Homo sapiens: one gene and its partner. The protein of the gene in region 1 purifies or fractionates together with the protein of each later gene. This does not show direct contact. Each region holds a gene or a part of one and is shown in the gene's direction. Other genes may lie near its edges.

Region 1 (3,537 bases):
AAGCGATTCTTTTGCCTCAGCCTCCCAAGTAGCTGGGATTACAGGCGCCCGCCACCACGCTTGGCTAATTTTTGTATTTTTAGTAGAGATGGGGTTTCACCATATTGGCCAGGCTGGTCTCGAACTCCTGACCTCGTGATCCACCTGCCTTGGCCCCCCAAAATGCTAGGATTACAGGCGCGAGCCACCGCGCCCGGCTGAGAAGACTTTTTCTCTGTGCAGCCTGGGGAGGCAGAACCACATCAAGAAAGCGGATGATGGCTGGACGTGGTGGCTCACGCCTGTAATCCCAGCACTTTGGGAGGCTGAGGTGGGTGGATCACTTGAGCTCAGGAGTTCAAGATCAGCCTGGGCAACATAGTGAAATCCTGTCTCTACAAAAAATACAAAAATTAGCCAGGCATAGTGGCATATGCCTATAGTCCCAGTTACTCAGGAGGCTGAGGTGGGAGGATTACTTGATCCTGGAAGGTTGAGGCTACAGTGAACCATGATGGTGCCACTGCCCTCCAGCGACAGAGCAAGACCCTGTCTCAGAAAAAAAAAAAAAAAAAAGTGATTGGAAGTGAATGTAAGGAGGAACTTTCTAGCTGAGGAATGTTAATTAGTGGAAGACACCTCCCGGGGGAGTGAGCTCGTCACCTGAGTATGTCAGCAGAGACTTGCACACTCAGCATGTTGTTTTGAAGATGCAAGAATTGTGTGGGAATTGGACTTGGTGACAGCCACCTCTGAGATTCCGAGGTTCTGTGTTTTGGGGCAGTAAGCTCTGCCTCCGTGTAGCTCTGGAATCTCCTGCTATTTGACCTTCAGTCAATCCCCTGTGCTAGAAGAGTATCTGACCTTTTCCAGGGAGTGGAATGGGGTGACCAATTGCCAGCTTATGCCAGGATAGCATGAGCCCTCTGTCTGTCCACCTGGGCTTCATGGCAGTCAGGCCTTGGCATTTTCATGATCTCTTTGTGGCCTCCCAACACTCATGTCAAGTTAAGGAGACTGTGGCTCTGAGAGGTACAGTAACTTGCCAAGGTCACACGGCTAGCAAATGGCAGAGCTTGGATTCAGGCCAGGAGGCCTGGTTTCTAAGCAGAGCAGGGGAGACAGACACAGCATGAGCTGAGCAACCTCTCAGAGCCCTCCAGTGTGGCTGGCACCCCATCCCTTAGGCTCCTCCCAGGGGAGCAGCCTGGCTAATAGATGGCTAATAGACATCTTTAATAGATAGGGTGATCCAGGCAGGAGAAGAGTCCTACTCGGGGGGAGTAATATCATGGGTGGGTGGGATAGGCTGTGTGCTTTCACTGTTTCTAATAGGTTAGGGGAAAACCAGGTTCGATGGAGGAGGGAAGAAGGAGGTTGGGGCCAGAAAACCTGTGGCTGCCCCAGTGGAGCTGCTGTGACGCTGCTGGTCACAGCTTCTTTGCTCTGTGTGGGCCTCCCTGCGGGTCCCATGTGGGGTCACCCGGCTCTACCCTGGGCTACTCTCTGGATCTCTGTTTCCCACCTATAAAACAGGGTGGTGATGAAATACCTCCTCTGTCAGAATTCTTCCAGCTCTGAGAGTCCATGAATTCAGAGCCTCGCTGGCAAGATGCCTGGAAAGACTGTCCCTGGAGACAGACTCAGCATGCCATGGCCAGTGCTAATGAGGGCAAGGGAGGGGAGGGCAGGGTCAGATTCCTCAAGAACTAATTAGCTTCCCACAGTAGGGAGGAGAGGGGCAATGGAGGGAGGAATTTTCTTAGCCACTGATGTTGCTGGTCACAGGCTGATCCATCCACCTGTCTGTCAATGCATTTGTTCATGCAGCATTTGTTCATTTATTATTCAACAATTATAAATTGAGCATCAACTGTGTGCCAGCTGGCCACTGGGGATAGAAAGAGAAATGGTTGCCTATGGTGATCTTATAGATTAATAGGGGACTGAACTCAGCCTGATCTCAGGACCTCAAATCCCAGACTGAACCCCGACCCATGATGACCTTGTTCCTGCCCCTTATGTCCCAAAGAGACCTTTTGGGATGAGTAGACCACTTGAGCATGGACTAGAGACCCCAGAAAGAACAGTTCTGACTCCAGCTTTGTCACCCTTGGCTTTGCAACCTTGGGGCAGTTCCTTATATATCTCTGAACCTCCGTTTCTTCTTCTGTAAAACACAGGCAAGCAATGCTTGTCTCATTGTGGTCTTGTGCAGATAAAATAAAAGAATGCAATGTTCTACAGTAGTCATTGGTGAAACTAGCTCAATTTGTTACTTTTCTAGTGTTAAAAGATGTGAATTTTAAAATGAGTATTTAAGTAAAACTAGGAAGAAATCCTGGGAGGAGATAGAAGAAACTGATTGTGATACAGAGTAATCAGGGATGGGGTGACACTTTTTACTGTATACCTTTTTATGTTTTAATTTTTAGGGCCAGGTATAGTGGCTCATGCCTATAATCTCAGCATTTTAGGAAGCCAAGGCCAGAGTATCACTTGGGCCCAGGAGTTTGAGACCAGCCTGGGCAACACAGGGAGACCCCTTCTCTACAAAAAATACAAAAAAAAAAAAAAATTGGCTAAGTGTGGTGGCGCACACCGATAGTCCAGATATTTGGGAGGCCGAGGTGGGAGGATGACTTGAGCCCAGGAGGTTGAGGCTGCAGTGAGCTATGATGGTGCCACTGCATGCCAGCCTGGGCAACAGAGCAAGACCCTGTCTCAGAAAAGTAAAAATAAAATAAAAATGAATGAATAAATAAATTTTTAGACTATGTGAATGTATTACCTACCCTAAAAAGGGGAAATATTAGTGGCGTCTCTTTATAAAATCAAAGCACATGCCTGTAATCCCAGCACTTTGAGAGACTGAGGTGGGCGGATCACTTGCGCCCACCTGAGTTTGAGACCAGCCTAAGCAACATGGTGAAACCCTGTCTCTACAAAAAAAAATACAAAAATTAGCTGAGCATGGTGGCATACATCTGTAGTCCCAGCTACTTGGGGAGCTGAGGCAGGAGAATCACTTGATCCCAGGATGTCGAGGCTGCAATGAGCTGAGATCTCATCATTGCACTCCAGCCTGGGTGACAGAGTAAGGTACTGTCTCAAAAAAATAAATAAATACAAATTAAAAAAAGCAGACGGTGGTTTATTAAAACATTTTTGTTTAAAAAAATTAGAGCACATTCCTATGCTATAATTCTGAAAGTATAAAGGGCCCTAAGGAAGGCACACAGAAAATATTCTGGGGGTTCATTTGTGCATTCAGCAATATCTACCGAGTGCCACTGTATGACAGGTGCTGTTCTAGGGGCTGTTGTTAGAGTGATAAACAAGTCAGGTGGCCGGGCACGGTGGCTCACGCCTGTAATCCCAGCACTTTGGGAGGCCGAGGCGGGTGGATCACCTGAGGTCAGGAGTTCGAGACCAGCCTGGCCTACATGGTGAAACCCCATCTCTACTAAAAATACAAAAATTAGCCGGGCATGGTGGCACATGCCTGTAGTCCCAGCTACTCGGGAGGCTGAGGCAGGAGAATCACTTGAACCTGGG
Region 2 (3,537 bases), on another chromosome or scaffold:
TTGCAATTCCTAACCTCAGTCTTTTCCTTTGAAGCTTAAACATACTTCCTCTTAAAGAAGCAACAGGGAATGTATTCTTTAAATAAATGATTTTTAGAACTTTTACATTCTTTTCCTGGCTGTCACTTTATTCTGTACTAGGTTAAAAATTCCTAGCACCTTTAGTTTTTTGTTATAGATCTTATTTATCATCTTTGTATGTGTAATATTGTCCTCAGTGACTACTTCAGTTCTTTTTATAGATGTTTTACATAGATATTTCCATAAGATGTCTTAAATCTGGACTTAGAAAAACATCAGAATAATAGTTGATCTTTCCTGTGTAGCATATACCTTGTACTTGTACATATACCTTGATTTTTAAAAATGGTCAGACTGTATTGCCAGCCATCAGTTAGTATGACTTTCCTATCTTTCACAGACAGTTATTTCTTATTAGATAGATTGTTATGTTTCATAGGGTCATGAAATATTAGAATGGGATTAATAATAGCAAATTAAAATCCAACTTTGAGATATGGCATGGGAGAATGTTATGGACCATGCTAATTCGAGATGGAATTATGCCTTCATTTTCAGGAATTTTTCAAAATGAAAGGATTGAATTAAAGTAAATTTGTCTTAGATGAATCAAAACAAGAGAGGGTGACATGTCATTTTTTTCTACTAATTCAGAACATTTATGGAGCCCCTAATATGTGTCAGGGACAATGCAAATATAACAAATACAACAAATACATAAAATGAGGAGCTGATGAAGTAAGGAGCTGCTGGTCGGTGGGACGTGTACAGCCCATTAAGGAAGCTCTCAGGCTGTTCCCAACTCTGTGCTTTGATGATCTTTCTAAGGTTGCTGCAGCCTCATTAAGGAAGTCACAACCTTTCTCTGTTTCTTATGTCCTTTGGATTGGTATTTTTTTTTCCCCTCAAATACTATTGTGTTACAATGGATTGTTATTCTTGAAACAGCATATCTGAAAAAGATTTTTCTAACTCACAGTAAGAAGGATATTGCAGAGTTAATATTGAGGTACATTGTGCTATATTTTGTGTTTTCTCAAATCATATGGAGCTTTACAGGATTAGAATTCAAATAATCAGCAAGGGCACCAGAGCTTCTTCAAACCTTACATGATAGTTGTTGAAAATGGATCTTCTTGTATTCTCTCCCTTTTTGGGGGCTCCGAGTCATAGTTAGGGCATTCATGGATATATGAAGTTTTTTTGTTCAGGATGGTTTTCAGGGAATAGTTCTGTTGAGATCCAACTTTTTGTCTTTGCGGAGGCTTCCTTTATAACAGTTTTGTCAGTGCTTCTTAAACTTTAATATGCATATGAATCACTTGGGAGATCTTGTTAGCATCAAGATTCTGATTCAGTAGGTATTCTATGGGAAATTACCTTGATACAATGGTTGAGCTACAAGTACACCAGCAGGCAAGCTATCTCAGAGGTTATGGAATAGAAGACTCAGAAAACAAATTAAAATGCTTGAATCACATGATTTACCAAACCAGTTAAACACAAATCCAGAAGCAAGAGGAAAGCTATGGAGTAAGTTAACACACTTCAGGTTCAAACCAGGTTGGAAGGACCACGCTACCTGTCCTGGATAAACAATGTTCCTATGTCCCATCTTTCTTTCACATAACCCTTCCCCATTAATGATGTGGTTATGAGGACCAGAGCTGATGTTTGAGCCAAGACTCCATAGACTAATGATTTCCTGGGTCGATGATACACACTTGTTCTGTTGAAGAGATGTGACAAATACACTTAGGTACAGCCGTAGCTTTGCTAGTTTGCCTGCTGATGAGCCATGGGACCATCCTTGGTGTCTTCAGTAGATGACTGATATGGAAGTAATGTAGCTATCAGTCCAGGCATAATGGTGACTTGGTATTTCCACTGCTTTTTGTCTATAAGTAAATCTCATTCATTTTATCATAATTTCTATTTATTTTATTGTTGTCATGTCTTACTCCCAGCTTACCTATTTATTACGCATCTGCTGACTGCCTTCATTTCACCAGCTTGCATTCTCATTATCAATACTTGGCCCAGCCTGAGTGTTGCCTCTGTCTCATAAGTTGTTAGTTTATTTACCATCTATGATTATCACTTCTTAAGTGTTTCATCCATCCCATTAGTTTTGTTTACCTCTATAATAGAATTTCATATTCTGAAATAATACAGGAAAACCACGTTAACAGTATGTCTGGAGGGGAACCTTAGATTTTACATTTCTAACAAGCTCTCAAGTGGTGCCGATGCCGCTGATCAAGAGATCACTCTTTGGAATATGAATTTGAAGTACAATCTTCTGGCTTCTGAAAGTGGCTGGCCATAGCATGTTAGGGAAGCAACATGTAATAAATTTCCTTTCCAGATGGGCTGCTATATCTGGTTGGGTGGAATAATATTCTCTGAAGATGAAATAAGGTATAATCTTGTAAAGTGCATGAATACTCTGTTTCTGGATCCCAAAGTGGATTATTATCCTTAACTCAAGGCATTTGGGTCATTAAAAAGTCACATCCTAGGCTCTTTGTGTGGTTTAAGTTTTTAGTTATAAAAAGTTGGGAGGAAGAAGTTTTTAATGGAATCAGAAATTTCATTTCTTTCATTCTTTTGCAAGTGTAAATTAATAAACTTAGTATAAGAATGGTCATATGATTTAACTTGCTTTTCTTGGATAACTTTGATGGTACAACTTTTTTTTTGTTTGTTTTTTGTTTTTTGTTTTTTGAGAGGGAGCTTTGCTCTGTCACCCAGGTTGGAGTGCAGTGGCACGATCTCAGCTCACTGAAACCTCCACCTCCTGGGTTCAAGAGATTCTCAGGCCTCAGCCCTCTGAGTAGCTGGGACAACAGGCATGCACAACTATTCCAGACTAATTTTTATATTTTTAGTAGAGACAGGGTTTTTACCATGTTGGCCAGGCTAGTCTCGAACTCCTGACCTCAAGTGATCTGACCGCGTTGGCCTCCCAAAGTGCTGAGATTATAGGCGTGAACCACTGTGCCCAGCCGATGGTATAACATTTAAATTGGATTTCCTTTTAAATTTTTATGTTTTATGACCTATGCTTCATAACCAGGTAAATGAAATATGTCAAATATTTTAATATACTTTGTAAAATCAAATAATGAAGATTTGTTGAATGAACCCCTTTTCTAAAATCCAGAGGTATAGCTATACTTTTAAACTGAACAGTGATCATTTAGTGTTTAAAAAGGGATTCTTTTGACAGCAGATTATTTCAGATGTTTACTGGTATTTATTTGTAATAGAAATATTTAAAGTTTCTTGTTTTTTGTTAATTTAATTAATTTTTTTTGAGACAAGGTCTTGCTCTGTCACCCTGGCTGTAGTGCAGTGATGCAGTCATGGCTCACTGCAGCCCTGACCTCTGGGGCACAAGTAATTCTCCTGCCTCAGCCTCCCATGCAGCTAGGACTACAGGCAAGCGCCACCATGCCTGTTATTATTTTTTTTTTTTTTGTAGAGATGAAGTCTCACTATGTTGTCTAGGCT

The links. The genes of interacting proteins can lie anywhere in the genome.
Region 2: the proteins of SYNPO (region 1) and PPP1R9A purify together in Homo sapiens (affinity purification with mass spectrometry; one large-scale study listed by BioGRID and IntAct). This does not show direct contact.

The regions. Positions count from the first base shown.
Region 1 is NC_000005.10:150,643,634-150,647,170, forward strand, and holds part of SYNPO (synaptopodin), read left to right. Parts: intron 1-3,537. UniProt on the Homo sapiens protein: Actin-associated protein that may play a role in modulating actin-based shape and motility of dendritic spines and renal podocyte foot processes.
Region 2 is NC_000007.14:94,914,085-94,917,621, forward strand, and holds part of PPP1R9A (neurabin-1), read left to right. Parts: intron 1-3,537. UniProt on the Homo sapiens protein: Binds to actin filaments (F-actin) and shows cross-linking activity. Binds along the sides of the F-actin. May be involved in neurite formation. Inhibits protein phosphatase 1-alpha activity.